Linked DNA regions of Homo sapiens. The protein of the gene in region 1 interacts with the protein of each later gene in a biochemical or structural test. Each region holds a gene or a part of one and is shown on either strand. Other genes may lie near its edges.

What was found.
Region 2: the proteins of E2F2 (region 1) and RB1 form a complex in vitro, tested with the Homo sapiens proteins (2 studies listed by BioGRID and IntAct, with this or other methods).

Annotation. Positions count from the first base shown.
Region 1 is NC_000001.11:23,514,169-23,517,989, forward strand, and holds part of E2F2 (transcription factor E2F2), read right to left. Parts: intron 2,360-3,821; coding exon 2,167-2,359; intron 1-2,166. UniProt on the Homo sapiens protein: Transcription activator that binds DNA cooperatively with DP proteins through the E2 recognition site, 5'-TTTC[CG]CGC-3' found in the promoter region of a number of genes whose products are involved in cell cycle regulation or in DNA replication.
Region 2 is NC_000013.11:48,366,006-48,369,826, reverse strand, and holds part of RB1 (retinoblastoma-associated protein), read right to left. Parts: intron 2,334-3,821; coding exon 2,224-2,333; intron 1,301-2,223; coding exon 1,223-1,300; intron 1-1,222. UniProt on the Homo sapiens protein: Tumor suppressor that is a key regulator of the G1/S transition of the cell cycle. The hypophosphorylated form binds transcription regulators of the E2F family, preventing transcription of E2F-responsive genes.

The DNA.
Region 1 (3,821 bases):
TGCCACCTCCACCCAAGGTCTCAGAGGACAACTGAAGCGAAGGTGGTTCCAGCTTCGGAGGGCTATGCGCATGCTGACACTTGAGTGAGGAGGCACAGCAGGAGGAGGATGGACCAGAGGGTGGGGCAGAGGTCTGGGATGGGAGATAGGCACTGGGGAGGTGTCCCAAGGGACAGATGGCTAGCACAGGGAGAAGCTCTGGTCCCTGATGAGGCCTGACAGACACAGGAGAGATCATTAGAGAAGAGTTGGGAGGCTGGGCTCTGGTCCCAGCTCTGCCATCAACTTGCTGTGTGACCTTAGGGAAGCCACTTGCCCTCTCTGGGCCTGTGTTCATTCATGTGTTAAAAGAAGGGTTGAGTTAGTTGGGGACAGCAAACTTCTATAAAGAGCTGGAGCCTGTAATCCCAGCACTTTGGGAAGCCAAGGCAGGTGGATCACCTGAGGTCAAGGGTTCAAGACCAGGCTGGCCAACATGGGGAAACCCTGTCTCTACTAAAAATACAAAAAAAAAAAAAATTAGCTGGGTGTGATGGCGGGCACCTGTAATCCCAGCTACTTGGGAGGCTGAGGCAGGAGAATTGATTGAACCCAGGAGGCAGAGGTTGCTGTGAGCCAAGATCATACCATTGCACTCCAGCCTGGTGACGGAGCGAGACTGTCTCAAAAAAAAAAAAAAAAAAAAAAGCTGGAGAGTATTTTAGGCTTTGTGGGACACTTGTGGTCTCTGTCACATAGTTGCCTTCTTTTTCTTTCTCCCACAACTCTTTAAAAATGTAAAACCATTCTTAGCTCATGGGTCATTAAAAGCAGGTCAGATTTGACCTGCAGGCAATAGTTTATTAACCTCTGAGTTAGAGAAATGGACACAACCAGTGTACTGCAGAGCCCTTCCAGCAAGCCTCTTCCATCAGCCCAGCTCTACCTCTACCTTGGTCTAAACGCTAGGGTTCTACTTAAGAGAATTCTGCTGCTAAGAAGACAAAAAGTGGAACACTGGCCTACATAGCCTTGAAGAATCCTGCCAGTCTAGCCGGATGTGTGATCCAGGAAAAGGCAAAAACTGTTCTGGAGAGGGGCCTTTACAGGCTTCCATTTGTACTCCTTCTGGACTCCCACCCTCCTTGGGAAGCTCTCAGGAACTTTGCTCCCTGGCAACTTACCTGTACTACCTTCCATCAGGGGTAGCCAGCTCTTAACCATACCGTCCACCTCCCAGCCAGAAGCCCCTTCTTCGATTTGATCTATGCCTTGTGGAGAGAGCACTGGGCTGGGAGTATGTAGACCAAGGTTCAAGACACAGCTCTGTTGCCTCCCAGCTGGGAGACCTTAGGTAAGACACATCACCTCTATGTCTTATTTTTTTTTTAATGGGCAAATTTTATTATTTTATTTTTATTAGAGATGGAGTCTCATTATGTTGCCCAGGCTGGTCTTGAACTCCTGGGCTCAAGTGATCCTCCCACCTCAGCTTCCCAGAGTGCTGGGATTATAGGTGGGGACCACAGCGCCTGGCCTATTTTTTAAAATTTTATTCTTATTTTTATTTTTGAGACAGGGTCTCCCTCTGTTGCCCACGCTGGAGTGCAGTGGCATGATCAGAGCTCACTGTAGCCTCAACCTCCATGGCTCAAGTGTTCCTCCCACCTCAGCTTCCCGAGTAGCTGGACTACAGGCGTGTGCCACCACACTCGGCTAATTTGTAAATTTTTTTATAGAGACAGGGTATCCCTATGTTGCCCGGGCTGCTCTTGAACTCCTGGTCTCAAATGATTCTCCTGCCTCAGTCTCCCAAACTGCTGGGATTATAGGCGTGAGCTATATAATCTCACAACAACCTATGAGTTAGACAGTATTAATTACTGCGCCCAACTCACAGATGAGAAAAATTGAGGCCAAGAGAGGTTAAGTAACTTGTCTAAGGTCACATAGCTGGTAAGTGGATGGGCTGGGATTCAAATCCAGGCCTTCCTCTGCCCTGGAGCAGCACCAGCCTTCCTAGTGAGGCTTTATAAAGCATTAAGTACAATGCACATGTGTGGGGTAGGATGACTACATCCCCAGCTGCTGGATAAAACAGGAGGTTTTCAACAAACATTGATATAGAAGAGAAAACTAAGGCCGGTCTCTCCCCCCACCTCCTGTCCCTCTGGACAAGGGACCTACCTGAGGATGCTGTGGGCTCCATGATGCTAGGGTCGGTGCTGCTGCTGGGCTGGGCAGAGTCAGGGCTGGGGCAGAGGGTGGAGGTAGAGGGGAGAGGCTCCTCGGAAGGACTGTCCGGCTCCTGCACCTCCTCTGGGCACAGGTAGACTTCGATGGGCCCTTGGGTGCTCTTGAGATATATCTGCAGGTTGTCCTGGAGGAGGAAGAGAAGCCAGGTCATTGCTCTGGGCAGCTGGACACTTACACTTAGTGTGTATGGACAGACGCACGTGGCTGCTGCCATCCATGGGTGCAAGCTCAAACCCTGGGCTGGCACTGAGACCAACTCCATCTGGCCTAACTAAGGTGGACTTCCGCTGTTTCTGCTGTCTGGCCCTGAAGCCCACTTCTTTTAGGGGGAACACCTTGATTTTCCTGTGGGAAATCACTCTTCCCCCCACTCTCAGGTCATCTAGTTTTGGGGCGGGGGGGGGGGGGCAGCACCCTTCCCCAATGCCAGTGGGTGAGCTTGTGACGCAGCCAGGAAAGTTAGTGTGACATGATTGGTTCAGGATGGCCCATGGCTCAGGTGGATCCAACCAGCACTAGGCCCAGGACTTTTGCTGGACTTGTGGGAAATGGAAGCCCCCTTCCCACTGGGGTTGCTGAGCTGGTATCATAAAAGCTACCTCTACCACCACAAGGAGAGAGCCCACCTGGGAATGGAGTCAGCACAGAGAAAAGCAGAGAGATGAAAAGCGTGAGACAGACCTGAAGTCATAGTTTGAGCATCTACATCCAACCTTGCCAGCAATCTCTGAATCTCCCCCAGGACTTGTCATTTGGTTCCCACCACCCCTACCCATACCTCCCGCTGAAGCCAGTTGGACTTGGCTTTCTGTTACCTGTAACCAAGAGTCCTAGTATTTGGTCTTCCCACCCTGTCCCTTCCCTACCACATAACCGCAACTTAAGCCACAACTGATGACATGCATGCCATCCAGGCACATGTCCAGGTCTCCATGCCTGTACTCACACAGAACTGCACCTAGCAAAAACCCTATTCATTCTTTAAGACCTAGTTTAACTGTCCCCACCTGGGATACCTCCTCTAACTACCCTTTCTCTATGCTTGCAAAGCACATCTTCAGTCTATAAATGACAGCGTCTTTTTCCCACTAAGTCGTGAACTCCTCCAAGGGTGGGGGCAGGACCTTAATTGTCTCTGCAGCCCCAGTTCTTCCTTTAAATAAATTATTTCTTGAGTCCTTATAATATGCCAGGCTCTGGGCAAGGGATACAAGGTGAGTAGAACATTCTCTTGTGAAGCTTACACCCTAATAGATGAAGCAGAATGCAATCGTGTAATCATGCCAAATATACCTCAGCAAATGGAGATTAAATTAAAGGCAGCGGAAAAGCACAGGTGTTTATGAAGTCTGGAGGTAATCAGAGAAGGCTTCCTTGAGGAAGTGACATTTGAGTTGAGACCTGTAGGATGAATAGCGGTAAATCAGGCAGAGAGGGAAGAACATTTCAGCTCGAGGGGAAGAGCATGTATGAGGGTCTTGCACGGCTAGGTGCGGTGGTTCACGCCTATAATCCCAGCACTTTGGGAGGCCAAGGCGGGCAAATCACTTCTATGCCGAAGTTCAAGACCAGCCTGGACAACGTGG
Region 2 (3,821 bases), on another chromosome or scaffold:
AACAGGATGATATGAGAAATAATAAAATACTTCAGAGAGAAATATCTTTTCAAAAGCAATATTTGTGCTGAATGAAGAGTAGCAGTTGGTAATCCATGGAAAGAAAAGGAGGAAATTTCAAGAAGAGGGAATATCAAGTACGAGGGTTTTCAAAAAACTTGGAAAGCCCAAGAAACAGAGAAGGCCAAAGTGTGGCTAACACAGAGTGAGAAAGAAAACAAGATGAGGTTGGAGAGGCAACAGAAACCAGACCATATAAGATCTTTTAGGCATTGTTAAGGAATTTGCACTGTATACCAATTGCAATGGGAAGCAGTCAGTGGGTTTAACAGCAAGGTGAATGTAACTGATTTACATTTCTAGGAGAAATTCTGGGGGCTCTATGGAGAATATCTTTGATGGTGAGGAGACAGGAACAATGATGAGACCAGAAGGAGCAAGATCAGGTAGTAGGCTACTGCAAAAAATCCAAGAGAAAGAGAACAATGTCTTGGACAAGAGTTGTGAGAGCAGAAATGGAGAAAAGTAGATGCACTCAGGAAATATTTTGGAGGTAGATTATTCAACAAGCCTTGATAACAGATTTTGATGTGGGAAATGAGTGAGGAAAAAGACATAAAAAATAGTTCTAATCCTTTAAGGTTGCATGCAGATCAAATAGTGATACTTTAATTTTTTCTTTTTTATTTACTGAAATGGAACACATTCCTATTTTAGGTTATGTTCTTTAAGAACAGACAAAACTAGGTCCAATAACCATATCTTCAGCAACCAGTAAAATGCCCAGCACACAAAGATTATATATACACATTTTTTTTTTGAGACGGAGTTTCGCTCTTGTCACCCAGGCTGAAGTGCAATGGCACGATCTCAGCTCTCTGCAACCTCCGCCTCCCGGGTTCAAGCAATTCTCCTGCCTCAGCCTCCCGAGCAGCTGGGATTACAGGCACACACCACCACCCCCAGCTAATTTTTGTATTTCTAGTAGAGACGGGGTTTCACCATGTTGGCCAGGCCGGTCTCAAACTCCTAACCTCAGGTGATCTGCCCGCCTTGGCCTCCCAAAGTGCTGGGATTACAGGTGTGATCCACCACACCTGGCCTTCAATATATATTTCTTACATGTATGTATGAATACATAAAGAAACGTGAACAAATCTGAAACACTATAAAGCCATGAATAACAAAATTATAATATAATTAAAAGTAGGAAAATTCATACCTAACTGGAGTGTGTGGAGGAATTACATTCACCTCTTCATCAAGGTTACTTTTTCGTGGTGTTCTCTGTGTTTCAAAACTAAATAACAATAAGTGAAGTCATTCACATACTGAAAATTTACAATTTGTGCTTTATGCATCAAAAAAGCAGTATAATGCTTCTGTTGTCTCATAAAATCATATAAAATGATAACTCAATAATAGATAGGATAGAAAATAGATGACCCAGCTGCTGCTTAAATAAAATATTTTTCACTACTCTTTTTAATTGTGGGTCTCTTTCCATTATGTTTATGACAAAGAGGTATACCAATCATTAAGTCTTTTTTTAAAAGTGAAAGTCAGATGCTTTCTCCCTGGTGGTATTGATAACCAAGTTGTTCAGTATTAAAAAGCATTAAAACTCAAGTTTTTCAATGCATTATTCCTTCTAAAAACTTTATTTCCACTTAAATAAAATTTAAAACATTTTACTGTGTTTAACTTCTAAATTACGCATATTTTCAGTTTCATATTAAAAGAGTTCATGCTAAAGACACAAAATTAACTTTACTTATGATCAGTCAAAAATTTTAACAATCACTCTCAACCATTCCAATTTTAGGTTTCTACATGATAATAACAGAGACTACACTTTTGTATAAACTTTTTTAAATAAACCAGGCAGGCAATAGTATATGAAAGGATAGAAATAAGGTAGAGACCACTATTTGAAGAAACTAATTACTTTAGCCATTATCTTTTGGTGCACATTTTAAAAAATTATATTCAGTTAACTGCAAAAAGGTAACTGTTATAGGACACACAATTCACATTAAATCTATATTTGTAGATAAGTTATATGCTTAAAATACTGTTAAACTTTTCTTTGTATAAAGACATTTGAAAGTAATTTGTTATAAATGATATCTAAAGGTCACTAAGCTAAAGACTATATAATCTACCTATATCAGTATCAACCTATATCTAAAGCAAATCAATCAAATATACCATGTGCAATACCTGTCTATAGAATCAGTCTGAAGAGTTTTATCATGATCCAAAAATAATCTTGCATCTAGATCTTTATTTTTAAGATAAATTTCTTCGTATCGTTTAGAAAGATTTTCAACCTTGAAAGAAAAAAGTCACTGACAATTATCCTTTACATGTCATTACATCTCTCAGCACACAGAGGCACAGATTTCATTAAAGAATTTTTGTATAATATACATTTAATTTTGTAATATACACTGAGTTCGCATGCAATATAAATAAGGTCTATCTAAAAGTGAGGTACAGAAAATTGCAACATTTGTTCAACTTTGATTTTAGGTCTATTTCGTGCATAGAAAATATTTATTAGAATTTTATGTAGACAAAGATAGCCAATGCTACAAAACAGTACCTAAGATAAAAATAGGTATTATAATAACTGTTTAACTGCCAAGATTTTCCAAACATCCCATATATGCTTTACTTTTAATCTTTTTTTTTTTTTTTTTTTTGAGATGGAGTTTCGCTCTTTCGCCCAGGCTGGAGTGCAGTGGCACAATCTCGGCTCACTGCCACCTCTGCCCCCGGGGTTCAAGCAACTTTCCTGCCTCAGCCTCCCGAGTAGCTGGGATTATAGGTACCTGCTACCATGCCCGGCTAATTTTTGTATTTTTAGTAGAGACGGGGTTTCGCCATGTTGGCCAAGCTGGTCTTGAACTCCTGACCTCAGGTGATCCACCTGCCTCGGCCTCCCAAAGTACTAGAATTACAGGCGTGAGCCACCGCGCCCAGCCTGCTTTTAATCTTTTATGCTTATCAATATAAAATATTTTTTCAAACATTGTTGCAAATCCTCTTGATTACATATTCTACCAATGTTTTCTAAACCCTTTGGTTCACTCCAGTACCCTTCAGTTAAGTATCTTGGGCAAGACAATTAGCTCAATTTATCAGTTCAATTAACACACTTGCACAATTTATTCCCAATCTTAGATACTTTTTCAATTGCTAGAATTTGTAAATCTTTCATCAGTTCTGATCCATAATTTTTTAATTATACTTTAAAAACCAATGCCCAAGAGAAAACTATTGGCATGCCTTCTACTGTGACTTTTAACGCCAAAGTGATTCCAACCTCAGAGAAGTAAAATTGCATTTTAAAAGGAGTGATAGGAAGAAATCCAATTAAATGCAAACTTTTCATTAATCTTCATAAATGTATTAGATAGAACAGTAATCCATGCTTATGTTTAATCATTGTTCCTGTCCTACCTTAGTTGAGGCACTAATTACCAGTCATCTATTGATTGGCTATATTATGTGAAATATTGGAGAAAAAGTAAAATTACTCTTAAGATTTATATTAAAACTATAATCCTTTTAAAGGAGAAAAAAAGATTGCTACAACAGATTTTAAAGTTATGAACAGCCTAGTTTTTGGTACCAAAAGTGGTAACAAGACTCATTAATATAACATTTGGTCCCTTCTTGCCTCTTCAGTACCATATTTTAATTGTTCTGCCCTGTATCCCAACCTTAATGAATTACTTAGAGTTCACTGATCAGACCATACTATCATACATCACTGCACCTTTGAATCTACAATGTCCAACCCTTGGAAATGC